Linked DNA regions of Homo sapiens: region 1 is linked to region 2. The links come from fine-mapping of genetic effects on gene expression. A gene starts in region 2. The other region holds a variant in brackets. All regions are shown on one strand. Distances are from middle to middle.

What was found. PIP is the estimated chance that this variant, and not a neighbour inherited with it, causes the effect.
Region 1: its variant is fine-mapped to the expression of MAP3K9 in whole blood (INTERVAL, PIP above 0.99).

Annotation. Positions count from the first base shown.
Region 1 is chr14:70,785,264-70,788,167 of GRCh38, reverse strand. All of the region lies in intron 2 of MAP3K9 (mitogen-activated protein kinase kinase kinase 9), which reads left to right. Among named protein-coding and RNA genes, the nearest start is that of MAP3K9-DT, 22 kb to the left of the region's middle. The variant A/G (reference allele first, on the strand shown) is at 1,384.
Region 2 is chr14:70,807,867-70,810,770 of GRCh38, reverse strand. It overlaps MAP3K9 (mitogen-activated protein kinase kinase kinase 9), which reads left to right and starts at 1,258. Exons shown (of 12, transcript NM_001284230.2): 1 at 1,258-2,005. The coding sequence starts at 1,600. It overlaps MAP3K9-DT (MAP3K9 divergent transcript), which reads right to left and starts at 1,987. Exons shown (of 2, transcript NR_184164.1): 1 at 1,484-1,987. RefSeq lists a silencer at 1,057-1,696 and an enhancer at 2,637-2,696.

The DNA of each region.
Region 1 (2,904 bases), 23 kb after region 2:
TAAAAATAGGACAAAATTGAAATACAAAGAAAAGTCTGTCTCCAGAAAAAGAGAGAGAAAAAAGAAAAGTCTCTGTCCTTCCCTCCCAAACCCTAAGTTTACTTCTTAGAGGCAAATGCGATTAAGTATCTTTTTGTCTCTGATAACTTTTTTTCTATGAAAACATAGAAATCCCAATAGAATTCTGGACAGCAGAGGTGTTGCTGTTTTTCATCCCTTCGTCTTCCCTTGCTCCCCCCATCTCTGTCTCCCCTCACATCATCCCTAGTATAGGACTTCGCATGTAGCAGCCCAGGTGTTTGGTGGCAATTCCAATGTGGCCAACCAAAAAATCTTGTTTTGTTTGTGTGTTTTTTTTTGTCCCTAGTTCCTTTCTGGATGGACTCAAAACACTTTTACTGAATGAGCTTTGTTTGTTCTCTTCAAGCCTTTGCTTTTATATATCTATTTCATAAACTTCTCAGGGGCTTGGGACCCTAGAGGAAGGTGTTCCTTGGAGTAGCTTGTAAAGTCAGAAGCCCAATGTGTGTCTTTGGAATTGCCCAGCTGTGAAGGTACTGACTGTCCATCCATCCCTTGGAGCAGGTTTGGGAGTGGGGCCCATTGCAGCAGGTGGGCATCAGGATGCTGGCAATGACCGATCTTTTTTTTTTTTTTTTTGAGACAGAGTCTTGTACTGTTGCCCGAGCTGGTGTGCAGTGGTGCCATCTCGGCTTGCTGCAACCTCTGCCTCTGAGGTTCAAGTGATTCTCCTGCCTCAGCCTCCCGAGTAGCTAGGATTACAGGTGCCCGCCACCACACCCAGCTAGTTTTTTGTATTTTTAGTAGAGACGGGGTTTCACTATGTTGGCCAGGCTGGTCTCAAACTCCTGACCTTGTGATCCGCCCGTCTTGGCCTCCCAAAGTGCTAGGATTACAGGTGTGAGCCACTGCGCCCAGCCAGTGACTGATCTTATAGTTAAGATCTTTCTCTGCAAATCCTTGTGACTGCAAGCTGATGTGGCTTATGAGGCAATATAACAGGAAAAAGTATCATTGAAAAAGGAAAAAAAAATAGTTATGCTAGATTCCAGTGTGCAGATACAACTGTTTTCATCTTTATATTTGGCTTTCCTATTCTTATCTATATACCTCATCTCCTCCTGCTGTTTTATTCACGGTGTACATGCCATCTGGACACTTAAAATTTGTTTTTGTTTCTGCATTCTGTTAACCTTCAGGGTCCAAGAGGAAGGAGGATGCCTTAATCAGTGAGTACCAAGAAAAACCAAAAAACTAAAAATAAAAACAATAAATAAGAGGAAGGAGAAAAGGACTGTGGGTAGGGAAAATAGCGATAGATTTTGGATTCTGGTCATTCTTGACTTTCTTTTTTGCTTATAG[A/G]TATGATTAGAGCTTACTGGAACCTTACAGTTGTGAACTAGAGAAGCTGAGTGACTTGCCTAAGGTCATCCTGATGCTCATGATAGTGTTCCTTCTTTTAGCCCGACAATGGAACACTGTTACTCTGCCAGGCTTTCCAGCTAGGACCAAAGTATTTCAGACAACAGTGGAAACAGGATCTGTACCCCATTCGAGGAACCAGGGGGACAATTTCCTTGTAAGGTCCCAAGGTCAAAGTTTGGGGTGAAGTCAGTGTTTTTCCTGGTTACTAACATGAACTCGGTCTTTGGTATGTTATGTAGAAGGATAACAGTGTTCAGTATTCTTCTAGGTGGTACAATTTTTAGGAAGAAAAGAATAATAAAAACATTTTTTATTTCTTAAGCAGTAGACTCCTGGCTCCCTGTGCTTAGAGATAGGAATCCCCGCTGAGAGATAGATGGGAATCCTGGAGTGGATTGTTAATAATCTCCCTGTTATTGGCACAGTTGTGTGATAGAGAGTTGTTTTCCCCTCTCCCCTGCCTTAGGAGACCTACCCTTACTAAGTATTTGGATTAAATTAATAATAAAATAGCTTGCTTTGCCCAAATGCACAGCAGCTAGTGACAAGGGGAGATGCCACATCACATCCCATGGATGGCAATGGAAAATCAACTAAGGACGTAAAATTTTCCCACATAAGCTTCAGATGACTTAAGATTATTAGTGTAACCTGATATTATCTGATACTCTCCTTGGCTTATTATTCATGGTGACAGTAATACATGGCCCTCATTTCCTTCATCCCCCAAATAGTCCTAGAGGTAGTAGAAAGAGTATGGTAGTCCCCTCTTATCTGCCATTTCACTCTCCCTGTTTTTAGTTACTCATAGTCAACTGTGGTCCAGAAATATTACATGGAACATTCTAGAAATAACGATTCATAAGTTTTAAATTGCACACCATTCTGAGTAGCGCAATGAAGTCTCACGCCTTCCCACCCCTTCTTGTGTGGGATGTGAATCACATCCTGTCCAGCATGTCCACACTGGGTGTACTACCTGCCCATTAGTCATCCACATGGTCTGTCCTGACATCCAACCATTGACATTGTCACAACTCAATGATCCCGGGTCATCCAAAGCAGACGATCCTCTGACTACACATCAGAAGGTTGGGAGTACCAAACACTGTGTCACTGTGTCACCTCGCCTATGTCATCTACCGCGCACTTCATCTCATCACGTACCCATTTTTTCATCTCATAACGTCACAAGAAGGGCGAATACAGTACAACAAGATCTTTTCAGAGAGAGAGAGAAACCACATTAATAAAACTTTTCTTATAGTATAGTTGTTCTATTTTATTGTTAGTGTTAATCTCTTACTGTGCCTAATTTATAAATTAAACTTTATCATAGGTATGAATGTATAGGAAAAAACAGTATATACAGGGTTCTATCCATGGATTGGGGCATCCACTGGGGATCCTGGAATGTGTCCCCTGAAGATAAGGAGGGACTCCTGTAATCATGCTTTG
Region 2 (2,904 bases):
TGGCCTGGACAACAAACTGAGACCCTGGAAGAAAAGAAAAGAAAAGAAAGGAAAAGAAAAGAAAAGAAAAGAAAAGAGAAAAAAAGATCAGAGAACCTTTCTTACTGGAAGTCAACGTTGCCACGACAGGATTAAAGCAAGAAGAAACATTATGGGCCTCCTATCTCGTCCTTAATGTTCAAAACGCAGGGTATAGCAAAGCATATAGGAAGAGGTCGTCCTCACTCGTGAACTCAGCATCGGGTTCTACGTTTATTCTGCTTTGGTTCTTCTTAATCTGACCTCTATAGACTTCGCCACGATCCAAGGTGTAATTCCAACAGGCAAAAGAAGTCTAAGGATTGTCGAAAAGGTGGCTCCCTTCAGACAGACCAAGCCCAATTCATGGCAGCGTTCCCAGCCCCAGTTTGAAGCTCAGTAAGGTGGTCTCTTGCCTTTCTGAATTCTGAAAAAAGAGTGGTATTGGAATCTCTTCTTACCGGAACCCAGGAGAGGGCGAGCTGTGGTGCAGTCCTCATAAAGGGGAGAACTGTAGTTTTCAGAGTTCTAATGAACATCCCAATGGGCCTAAAAGGCTTCAATAAGAGATGAAAGGTTCCGGGTGAGAGTGGGCGTGGGCGAAGCTGATCCCTCTAGGTCGGACTAAGGCAGAGCCAGATCCAAGAGGGAGAATCCAACTGTAAAAGGGATCTGGGGAAGAAAGAGCTCTGTTGGGGGTGCAGCCGGATGAAGAACACCGGTGCTGCTCAGTGCAGCCCCTACCCATCCATGGCAAACAAAGGCAGCTGCCTCCCTTCCAGCCTTTTAGTTTGAATGAAGGCTCAGTATTACCTTTTAGGATCCACCCTTCCCTTCTCACGCACCCAATGAGGCCGGAGCCTCTTCCTGCCGGGAGGTGCTGAACTCTCCCAGGAAACGGACAGGTGCCGCGAGCCAATGGAGGGAGCTGCGGCGGGCCAGTGGGCGGGAAGAGTGGGTCGACCTGGGTTTGAGAATGACAGAGCCCGCAATGGGGGAGGGCACGGTGCGACGGCGGCGCAGGGGGTGAGAGGGACCTGCGAGACGGCCAGCTAGGCTGCCCCAACCACGGCGGAGGAACCGGGGACTGGGCGGCCGCAGCCAATGGGAAGGCAGCGGGCGCGGGGCGGGGCGGGCGTGGGGCGGAGCCCCCTGGGGTCCGCAGGGCTGGGGCGGAGCCAGGCCCGCGTCAGGTGGTCCCGGCGAGCTGGCGGTGCGGGGGGCGGGGCACGGCACGGCGCGGAGAGGAGAGCGGCGGCCGGCTGGCAGCGGCGGGCACCGGCTGCGCGAGCAGGTACCGGCGGCAGAGGTGACGAGGCCGCCCCCGGGGGGGCGAGCGGGCAGGCGGGGACTCGGCCCGCTGCGCCCCTAGGCTGCGCGAAGAGCTCGCGCTCGGCGCTCTTCTCGTACCGCGGTAACAGCGCCGGCGAGCCGGCTCTCCCAGCCCTGCCAGCCCGGGCCCTACCTGCGGCCGCCGTCGTTGGGGGGGGGTCCTCCCAGCTCTGCGGAGGCGCATGAACAATAGGCGGCGGCGGCTCCTGCGGGCGGCGGCGGCCCCGCACCCTATGGATCGGCCGCTCCATGGAGCCCTCCAGAGCGCTTCTCGGCTGCCTAGCGAGCGCCGCCGCTGCCGCCCCGCCGGGGGAGGATGGAGCAGGGGCCGGGGCCGAGGAGGAGGAGGAGGAGGAGGAGGAGGCGGCGGCGGCGGTGGGCCCCGGGGAGCTGGGCTGCGACGCGCCGCTGCCCTACTGGACGGCCGTGTTCGAGTACGAGGCGGCGGGCGAGGACGAGCTGACCCTGCGGCTGGGCGACGTGGTGGAGGTGCTGTCCAAGGACTCGCAGGTGTCCGGCGACGAGGGCTGGTGGACCGGGCAGCTGAACCAGCGGGTGGGCATCTTCCCCAGCAACTACGTGACCCCGCGCAGCGCCTTCTCCAGCCGCTGCCAGCCCGGCGGCGAGGACCCCAGTTGCTACCCGCCCATTCAGTGTAAGGCGAAGGCGGGGCCGGGCGGGGAGGGGGAATGACGGAGGCCTGGGGGGCGGTCGGGGAAGGGGGGAGCACTGCGCGAGGGCTGGGATGAGGGCGGGGGGTGGGGAGGACGATTGACCTGGGTGTGGGTGGCGCGCGCTTAGGCTGCCCGGGCTTTGCTTGCTGGATAAGCTCGAGACGCCTCAGGCCCTGCCCGCACTTCAGACGCTTGGGCTTCTTCACCTTCAGTTGGCCACCTCAGCAGTGGCTCCCGATTTCCACATCCTGAAGTCCCAGTCTGAGAATTTGCCAGTTTCCCAGTCCCTTCTCTTACCCACCCCCCCGCCGCCCCCCATTCCCAATCTGGAAGTGTTTATGGCAAGATGGTGGTTAGTGTCCTAGCCTTAGTCCCCAAATCAGGGACCTTGCCACCACCTCTTCTAACGCCTGTCCCCGCCTCCTAAAGGCATTTGCTTTCAAAGAGATGGGGGTGTCTCCGCAGGGCTGAGCTGGCTCACAAGTCCCGGAAGCATGTGTGAACTCAAGGCTCAGTTGCCTGTAAAATGTCGGGTTGATTTCTTGGATCCTATTTCTTATATCTCAGAAGTTGTACCTTTAGGAGTCTCACTGATTAATGTGCTAAGAGGGATGTGTGTGTTGAGAGTGGGGGTGAGACAAGTGATGATTAGAGAGGAAAAAGTATGTCGTTCCCCCATGGGAGATCAGGATTGCAAGGTACAGTGGCTGAATCCCAGTCCTTTGACAGTGAGGCTGTTTGGGAAATACATTTTCTTCTTTCTTCTCATTCTAGATCCTTGCCTATCTTTGGAACTGGTCAAATCTCAGGGGGACCATGCTCAGGGGTCCCTCCCAGGGCCTTTCTCCCAGTGTCCTGGTTTCCGTCAATTTTCCAGGAG